3 separate regions of the Homo sapiens genome follow, and regions 2 and 3 are each reported to be linked to region 1. The links are microRNA targets in miRTarBase. Many come from high-throughput screens and were not tested one by one. Region 1 holds a microRNA gene; each other region holds the end of a gene's coding sequence.

What was found. Region 1 holds the annotated microRNA hsa-miR-1322 (GAUGAUGCUGCUGAUGCUG, at 1,038-1,056, opposite strand). A microRNA usually pairs through its seed, bases 2 to 8, with sites in the 3' UTR of a target mRNA and lowers its output. Matches are read on the target gene's strand: a 7mer-m8 pairs with bases 2 to 8, a 7mer-A1 pairs with bases 2 to 7 and ends in A, and an 8mer does both.
Region 2: the mRNA of C11orf58 is a reported target of hsa-miR-1322. Seed matches in the 3' UTR shown: 7mer-m8 at 484-490.
Region 3: the mRNA of ZNF662 is a reported target of hsa-miR-1322. Seed matches in the 3' UTR shown: 7mer-m8 at 815-821.

What each region holds. Positions count from the first base shown.
Region 1 is chr8:11,034,243-11,037,501 of GRCh38, forward strand. It overlaps MIR598 (microRNA 598), which reads right to left and starts at 1,060; the gene lies at 964-1,060. The region is part of intron 1 of XKR6 (XK related 6); the gene reads right to left.
Region 2 is chr11:16,754,870-16,758,128 of GRCh38, forward strand. C11orf58 (chromosome 11 open reading frame 58) reads left to right here. Exons shown (of 5, transcript NM_014267.6): 5 at 2-3,259. The coding sequence ends at 235. Among named protein-coding and RNA genes, the nearest start is that of C11orf58, 18 kb to the left of the region's middle.
Region 3 is chr3:42,914,726-42,917,984 of GRCh38, forward strand. ZNF662 (zinc finger protein 662) reads left to right here. Exons shown (of 5, transcript NM_207404.4): 5 at 1-3,259. The coding sequence ends at 629. Among named protein-coding and RNA genes, the nearest start is that of ZNF662, 10 kb to the left of the region's middle.

The sequences.
Region 1 (3,259 bases):
AGGCTGGAGGATCTCAAAGATCCAGGAAGACGGCATGGAGGAGCCAGCACTTCAGCTGCAGCTTTGAAAGATGAGCACAGTTTAGCCAAACAAAATAACAAGAAGGGTGCCACAGGCCGAGAGAGCATCATGGGTAAAGGTACAAGGCAAAATGTCCAGGACATTTATGGGGAAGGGGAAGAAGCTGCATGTGTCTAGAGCTCCAGGTGAAATGTACCACATGAAGCACAAGGATGGGGGAGCCAGAGAATATGGGTACCTGAAGCTAGGCAGGTAAGATTGGCTTTTACTCTATGGGCAACAGAGAGCCATGGCAGGCTTTCCAGGAAGGGAGTGACATGCACCTTAGACAGGTCAGCCTGACAGCAGCTTAAAACTAGATGGAATGGGAGACAACTTTGTCCCTAAGCTCAGTCCCCTAAAGATACCAGCACATGACTGTCAGGCCCCTGCTGGGACAGCTGCCCCTCCCTAGGCCTGTCCATTCTCTTACCTCCCTCCTGCCTCTGATGGGGAAGGGGTGATGGGTTGGAAGTGGGTGTGTGCAACATTTACCATGGCCAGGTCTGCTCTGTGCTCTGTCCCCACCCAGCACACCCATCTCCATCCATACCGGCCAGCCTTGCCTGTTCCCTCACAGTGATGCATAAGCTGGGCTTCTCCTGCGGTGTGATACTAATGTACTAGCCAAACCCTGAGAGGCCACATATGGTGGGTGAGGGATGTGGGACTGCCAGACTGCCAGCCAGTGCCCTGAAGACTCTGCATTTCATATGCGTACACATTTAGTAGTAGTGTGACCCTGGGCCAGTTACTGATTCTTTCTGAGCTTCGGTTTCCTCATCTGTAAAATGGGGATGATGATACTTACCTTAAAGGGCTGCCATGAGGTCGAAAGACAAACTATGACAAACAGCCAGTCTCGTGCCCAGCCCAGCGTGGGTGCAAGCTATCTGGTGGCTGCTCGGATGATGATGATGACGATGACAACGATGACGTAGCACCCCATTTCCAGCTCACACCATCGGGATCACCGCCAGCATCAGCAGCATCATCAAGCCATCTTCCTGCGTTGTGGCAGCTTGGGCCCCCACTGGCCATGCAGGAGCCAGGAGATCAAATCATGAATGGGGCTCTTTGCACTTCAGGCAAAGTGCAACTCCAGGAAAGAGAGAAGATTAAGGCCAAATCTCTGCACCCAAACAGGATCCAAGAAGTGGGGTAATCTGGGACTCATCACATCTACATAAAGGGAGGAGGAAGCCCCAGGGTGGCCTGGGGAGGAACCCCAGTGGCCTAAGAGCAAGTTCTGCTCTGCAGCTGAACTTCAAGAACCCAGCTGCATCTCGAAGTTCTCGCTGAAGAATTTGGAGACCTGAAATATCCTGTTTTGCATGAATAAGCATTTCAAAGATATTGATTACAACAGCTCCTTACATGTGTACAGACAGTGGTGTGTCATTTCTCACACATTTTCAGATCCATCATCCCTGTGAGGAGGCAGGAAGGAGATTAGTGAGTTGATGTGATAGATGGGGAAACTGAGGAGAGGGAGGTAAGTGGTTTCCCTGAAATGCCACAGGTCTGATTTTTTTCCCTGAAAAAGGCAGGTCTGATTCTACCTACATCTAGGGCTCCCCTTTGTGTATCTGACCAGATGCATGTGAGAAATCTGAGTTGAGTTACCTGTGAAAGTCTTTTTTTTTTTTTTTTTTTTTTGAGGCAGGATCTTGCTCTGTCACCTAGGCAGGAGTGCAGTGGTGCAGTCACAACTCACTGCAGCCCTGACCTCCTGGGCTCAAGCAATCCTCCTGCCTCAGCCTCTTGAGTAACTGGGACCACAGATACCCACCACCATACCAGGCTAATTGTTTTTCTTAGTTTTTGTAGAGATGGGGTCTCACTGTGTTGCCTAGGTTGGTCTCTAACTCCTGGGCTCAAGTGATCCTCCTGCCTCAGTCTCCCAAAGTGCTAAGATCACAGGCATGAGCCATCACACCCAGCCTGGAAGTTCCTTCTTACCAGGCAGAGAGAGAAGCACTTCCAAGCTTGTAGGATTCTAGGAAAGTTTCTAATCCAATCTCTTCATGTCTCAGATGAGAGGTGGGAGACCTAGAGGAAGCCACTGTGCCCCTATTTAAAGTAAGAATAACCCCAAAGATATCTTCTCTGGTCAAAGAGTTTCCAAACCGTTGAATGTGAATCTTGCTACCGGCAGCATCAGCATCAATGGGAGCTTGTTAGGAATGCACATTCTTAGGCCCCACCCCAGACTTGCTACATCAGCATCTCTGGGTGGGGTCCAGGAATCTGCATTTTAACAAATTAGCCAGGTGGCTGCACAGTAAATTTTGAGAATTTAGCATGCTTAATCTGATGCATGCTAAGATCTGAACAACACTGCTCTCAAGAGTTGGGGGTGAGTGTTCTTTGGAGGGTTCAACAGAAGTTTAAGGCACATTTTCATTATGTTGACGTAACTGTGTTTTTAAACCACAATTTGAAAACAGCCCTTGAACCCTAAGTTATATACCAAATTTTAACAACTGGGAGGCCACCTTGGGCCACAGACTTAGGTCACGCTTTCATGTCCGAACTCCCTGGAAGGTGGCTGCGTGTGTTATTCTGTGAGCACAGGGTGGGGCGTGCCCCATCCTAGGCAGTGCACACTGGCTTGAGCTAGAACCGCTCTGGCGAGCTCTCTCAGTTAGCTCTCCCCTGCTTGAGAAGCCCCCTAGATCGGGTATGAAAGCCAGCTGAAAACGTCGGTGCCCTCTGCAGGTTTTTGTATTTATTATGATCCTACTTATACTTATGACGAGGCGTGGATATCATTTAGTGATGCTACGTGACACAGAAATAACACAACACTTCTCAAATTTCTGCATCTGTTTCACCCAACAATTATAAGTTGAGCTGTTAAAAAAACTTTTTACCATCCACAACCACCACTTATGTGATTACATGAGTTGATCAAGAATTTTAATACTTTTTTCTTTTTTTAAGACAGGGTCTCACTCTCACCCAGGCTGGAGTGTGGTGGTACAATCTCGGCTCACTGCAACCTTCACCTCCCGGGCTCAAGCCGTCCTCCTGCCTAGGCCTCCTGAGTAGCTGAGACTACAGGTGCACATCACCACGACTGGCTAATCTTTGTATTTTTGTAGAGACTGGGCTGTGCCATGTTGTCCAGGCTGGTCTCCAATTCCTGGGATCTAGCGATCCACCCACCTCCGGCTCCAAAAGTACCGGGATTACA
Region 2 (3,259 bases), not on the chromosome of region 1:
GGTAGAAGACCATGATGGAGAAGGTGATGTGGCTGGAGATGATGATGATGACGATGATGATTCACCTGATCCTGAAAGTCCAGATGATTCTGAAAGCGATTCAGAGTCAGAGAAAGAAGAATCTGCTGAAGAACTCCAAGCTGCTGAGCACCCTGATGAAGTGGAGGATCCCAAAAACAAAAAAGATGCAAAAAGCAATTATAAAATGATGTTTGTTAAATCCAGTGGTTCATAACTCCCAAACGCTTAGTCTTTGTATTAAAAGTAAGCCTTATTGTTACAATGCACAGTGGAGGACTGCTTATAGAGCACAGACCTTTGTATTATAATTTTTAAAAAGGCCCTTTTAAATAATTACAAAGAGTGTTTGCTTTCAAATGCCATGGGTTACACTTTTATGGGCATGACTATAACCATTTTTGTAAAGAGTAAGAGTTGTATAAAATAAGAAATAAATACAGTACTCAACTTCCTTTCATATTAGCATCATCAACCCTCTAATTCACCTTATGGGGGAAATGCTTCTTTTTGTTTGTGATAGCTATTTTATCATTTCCTTCATATTTTTCTCTTATAAAAATGTATTTGATACTGTGATATGTTCACGAAAAGTATTCTTTAATTATTCTTTGTTATAGTAGAGCTGTTCATTATGGATATTTCTGCTGCCAGTCACAATCTAAATTAATTTTGGCAAAAGATTGGGTACTTAGTTTCCTGTTACTGAGTTAGCTCTACTCTTTTGGACCAAAGCAACATGAGAGCAAGTACTTTTCACACTTGTTAAGATGGAGTTATAACTGTCATACATTTGGAATATTATGATCCCAAGTAGTCTTTTTATAATTTGGATTGTATCGTATGTTAGATTTTTGATAAAATTTGGCCAATTTTTACAGAAGAAATTCTCTGATCATTTAGTTCTGTCTATTTAGAAATATGTAAAACTGGATTTTTTTTTAAGTAATATGTGACCAAAGTTAATTTTGTCCCAAAGGTCTAAATAAAGAGCAGTTTCCCATATTTGGCTGTGATACCTTTATCCTCATTATCTACAAATGAGGAACAGGCTTACTGATAAGAAGCTGAAACAAGAAATTCTCTTCATTTTATCCCAGTGCTATTTTATTGATTAATTACTAAAAAGTATTACTTTCTAATTTTATTGCTGTTTCTGTTGGTGTGAGATTAGAATCATCTGACTGCTATTAGGTGGTTGATTTGTATAGCTGATTAACACAAATTGCATTATGAGCTAGTAAATGGATCTTTGGATAATGGGGTCCAAATTCTTAATGTTTATAAGTAACAAGTTCAAAGGCTTTAGTCACACCTGTTTGTGAGCTGAGCTATTATACATCTACATACTTAAAGGATGTATTTGGAGTGTTGGATTTTTTTTTTTTTTTTTTTTTTTTGAGACGGAGTCTCATTCTGTCGCCCAGGCTGGAGTGCAGTGGCGCGATCTCAGCTAACTGCAACCTCTGCCTCCCAGGTTCAAGCGATTCTCCTGCCTCAGCCTCCCAAGTAGTTGGGACTACAGTCATGTGCCACTACTCCTGGCTAATTTTTTGTATTTTTAGTAGAGTTGGGGTTTCACGGTGTTAGCCAGGATCGTCTCGATCTCCTGACCTCGTGATCCACCCACCTTGGCCTCCCAAAGTGCTGGGATTACAGGCGTGAGCCACCACGCCCAGCCTTGGAGTGTTGGAATTTTTAAAAATTATTCTTATGTCACTTTGAAATGTAGAACGTGTTGCCATGTGCGGTGGCTCACACCTATAATCCCAGCACTTTGGGAGGCCGAGGTGGCTGGATCACCTGAAGTCAGGAGTTTGAGACCAGCCTGACCAACATGGAGAAACCCCATCTCTACTAAAAATACAAAATTAGCTGGGCGTGGTGGTGCATGCCTGTAATCCCAGCTACTCAGGAGGCTGAGGCAGGAGAATCACTTGAACCCAGGAAGCGGAGGTTGCAGTGAGCCAAGATCACCCCATTGCACTCCAGCCTGGGCAACAAGAGCAAAACTCCATCTCAAAAAAAAAAAAAAAAAAAATTTAGAATGTGTTAGAGAAATTTAACAAGTAGAACAGGTGATTTCTGGTTGATAGACTCTATCTTGCAGTATATTTATTTCATGTATCAGACCCCAAAGTTGTTGCCTTGTTATTTTTTTAATTTCTCACATTTTTGAAAAATAGATGCTATCCTCTATAGTAAAATATTGAATCACTTTATAGTAGACAATACATATGACATTTAACAAATACTTGGTTTGAAAAAGTTTGGCTTTATTCAACAATTTTAGTTTGCCCACTGATTTTCAAATGTCTGTGGGATTGCTTATAACTAAGTAGAAAGTGAAGACTGATTTTTACTTAAGAATGGGATAGAGATGAGTTTTATGGTTTTTAAAAGTATTTTCAGTTCATTATTTAAATGTTGGGTTGTTGATATGGTCTTGTTTCTGATAAGGAAATAGGAGCAACTTGTTTTAAAATAACTACACTAAAAGACTTTCTTCATCTCCGTATAGAGAAATCCAGATTTCAATTAATTCATTTATTGGGTGCTAACAAAATTCAGGGTTAGAGTAAATTTAGGTCTGTTGGTCCATGTGGCCTGGTTTCCTAGCACCCATTAAACATAATGCTATCTTTTAAGCCTGAACATGTGGGTTTTTTAAATCAAATTGGAAAAAAATTAGACAACTGATGTCATGCTGTCTTGGTATCCATACTAAAAAAGTATCAGGAAAATAGATTATTTTTGTGCTGTGAAACACTATTCAGTGGAAAGTTTAGTGGCAACTTTTCCATATCATTCATGACTTAATACCTGAAATGCACTTTTAAATGTTTGCCTTATATCCAAGTGTTTACTTGTATCCATGACCTAACCGTCTATTGAAAAGAATGTTTGCAGATGCAGATTGCAATGTTGTTTGTATTCATAGGCAAAAGTCCTCTTCTCTAGTATAATTTTTTAAATCTGAGAGAATTGAAGGTACAGAAAAAAATTCTGGAGTGCCTGAACCACAGTTTGAGAGCACAAAGGTCACATTCTTTCAGTAAATTTGGGGGAAATAAATTTCAGCTACCTGGTTAGCTTCAGTGACTACTTACACACAGGGCTTTGGTTCCATTACTTGTTTCCACCACAGCCACATCCTAAATACTTGGAATATCCGAAAACAACTTCTAAAATCACTCAATAAAAGTATTCACTTCTAACCAACTCCTCCTCCTTTATACCT
Region 3 (3,259 bases), not on the chromosome of region 1:
AGGTCTATGGATGTAAGGAATGTGGGAAGGCTTTCAGTTTTCGATCACATTGCATTGCACATCAGAGAATTCACAGTGGGGTGAAACCCTATGAATGTCAAGAATGTGCTAAGGCCTTTGTTTGGAAGTCAAACCTGATTCGTCACCAGAGAATACATACTGGAGAGAAACCCTTTGAATGTAAGGAATGTGGGAAGGGCTTTAGTCAGAACACAAGCCTTACGCAACATCAACGGATCCACACTGGTGAGAAACCATACACATGTAAGGAATGTGGGAAAAGCTTTACTCGAAACCCAGCCCTTCTTCGACATCAGAGAATGCACACTGGGGAGAAGCCTTACGAATGTAAGGACTGTGGGAAGGGCTTCATGTGGAACTCAGATCTTTCTCAGCACCAGAGGGTCCACACTGGGGACAAGCCTCATGAATGTACTGACTGTGGGAAAAGCTTCTTTTGCAAGGCACATCTTATTCGACATCAAAGAATCCATACTGGGGAAAGACCCTATAAATGTAATGACTGTGGGAAGGCCTTCAGTCAGAATTCTGTCTTAATTAAGCACCAGAGGCGCCATGCTAGAGACAAACCCTATAACTGTCAGATCTCTCACCTTCTTGAACATTAGAGAGTGCATAATGGTGATACTTGTTTATAATTCTTATGCTGCAGGAACCCTAGAGACAAAATGAGATGACCATTCACAATTTGCTGTAACCCTTAACTTAAATAGCCAGTATTATCTTGCCCTTTTGAACATTTACCATGTACTCTAGCAAGACTGGTCCCTCTGTTCTATGATGTTTTAACAAGGCATCATTTAGTTGGGCAGCTACTCTGTATCAGGTGCTAACCACTTTACATACATTAATTTGCATAACAATCCTATTAAGGTAGGTGCTCTTCTCCCCATTTTACAAATGAGAAATCTGAGTTGAAAGAGGTTATAAAACTCATTCAGGGTTGCTCAGTTAGTAAGTTATAGAGTTGAAATTGGAGCCAGGCCTATCTGACTGCAGAGTTTACTGTTCTTTACTTAATTGTACATATTTATGTCTCTGCCCATTTTTATTTGCTTATTTTCCTGTGCTTTTAGTTTCCCTTCATCACTCAGATCTAGCTCCTTCAACTAAGAAGATCTCTCTTCCTCTTCTACTTGTAATCAGTACCACCCAAGTTAGTATTTAATTATGTGCCATCTTATATTTTTCTAATAGTCTCATGTCTTTTAATCTTAACCCCAGCTAAATGACTCTGAGGACCAACAGTACATTTCTTTTATGTTTTTCAAATCCTGAAACATTAATCTTTGACTAGATATAACATGCTCATGATAAAAAAGAATTGAAATAGTTGAAAAGGGTGTTCAGTGAAAAGTAAATTTCCTTGTCATTCCTATCTCTTGAGTTCTCCCCAGAGGCAATCACTGCTACTGGTTGTGTATCTCTGTAGATACTCTTTGTATACAAGTGTTTATTAGTATTGCTTTTCATAATTCTGTCTCACTGAAAACCTTATTTGATGGAAGCAACATTGCAGTTAAATTGTGAACTCTAAGACCTTTTCTTCAGAAGTTGCTTTCCTTTTGAGGCCACCAAAGTAATTTAGGGAAACAGCAGAGGGTAATCCAGGTCTTTTTTTTTTTTTTTTTTTTTTTAGACAGAGTCTCACTCTGTTGCTCTGGCTGGAGTGCAGTGGTGCTATCTCAGCTCACTGCAAGCTCCACCTCCTGGGTTCATGCCATTCTTCTGCCTCAGCCTCCCAAGTAGCTGGGACTACAGGTGCCCGCCACCATGCCTGGCTAATATTTTTTATTTTTAGTAGAGACGGGGTTTCACCATGTTAGCCAGGCTGGTCTCGATCTCCTGACCTTGTGATCCACCTGTCTCGGCCTCCCAAAGTGCTGGGATTACAGGCCTCAGCTACCACGCCTGGCCAATCCAGGTCTTAAGAGACCTCATTGCCTTTGTTTTATGAGATATCATTCTGGGATTGGGAATATGTAAACTCAACTGGAGATTTTTTTTCATAAAAATTTATATAGTTCCAGCCCTCTCATTGCTTCCTATCCTAAATCCTCTTCCAGTCTGTCCATCCCTCACTACCATGATAGTCTACATTCTGATAAGCTGTGAGGCCACTGCCAAGGGAGGGAGAAATGGTCACTTTCTGGTGGTGGTTAATGCTTTGTTAGATAGCTTCATCCAGTCAATAGTTGAAAAGTTTTCACATAATCCAGTATTGGCATCAGAGCCAGAAATGCCCTCCCTAGGTCCAGGACCAAAGATAAAACAAACACGAGGAACATGTAGCGTCTACACAGGAAAGTAAAGAATTATAGAATTAACTAATTCTACTTGAAATCAGGAGTTTTATAAAACAACATTTTTAGACGTGGTCATCTTTTATTGGTTTCCATCATCTCTTCCCCTTCTCTCTGGGAACAGTTACCCGGGTATTCTTTGGGAAGCTATCCTTTCTCAGCTATGTGGTTTGGCACCACCACCATCTTCATGAGTGGACCCTGTTTGGCTTGTGTCAATCAGTTTATCCCATCCCCTTGGCCACAGAGCCATTGTGATATGAGGAGATACTGGCTCTTCTGGAAAAGAGAGGCTTTTCTTCATCGAGAGCTACCAGAGGAGATATTATCTGTCCTCTGTGTGGCACATAGGAAAATGTGAGACCTAGAATTATAGCAACTTTTTTTTTCTGTTAAAAGGGGAGATTCTCAAGCTTCCAGGTGCTACCATATGGAGCCTAAGGATAAAGCCAATACCAAAGAAAACAGTGACTAAACAGAGAGAAACTAGGTCCTTGGTGACATCTTTTGAGCCACTAGACCAAGCTTTACCTGAAGCAGAGCTACCTCAGAACTTTTCAGCTATGTGAGCCAATAAACATCTGTCAAACGAGTTAGAGTTGAGTTTTCTGTTATTTGCAACTTAGCCACACTAATACTGTTTTGTGTTTGAAATCACTGTTTTCTCATACAGCTCCTCAGTGTCACCTTTTCCTCTTGCTCAGTAGTCTCATAAGCTTCTCAGTTTTATCTCATCTCAGTTGCTTGGAAGTTGAGCATCTAAATAGGTGGCTTTTGCTGGGTGCAGTGGCTTACGCCTGTAATCCCATCACTTTGGGAGGCCAAGGTGGGCAGATCACCTGAGATTGGGAGTTCAAGACCAGCCTGACCAACATAGAGAGACCCCGTCTCTACTAAAAATACAAAATTAGCCAGGTGTGGTGGCACATGCCAGT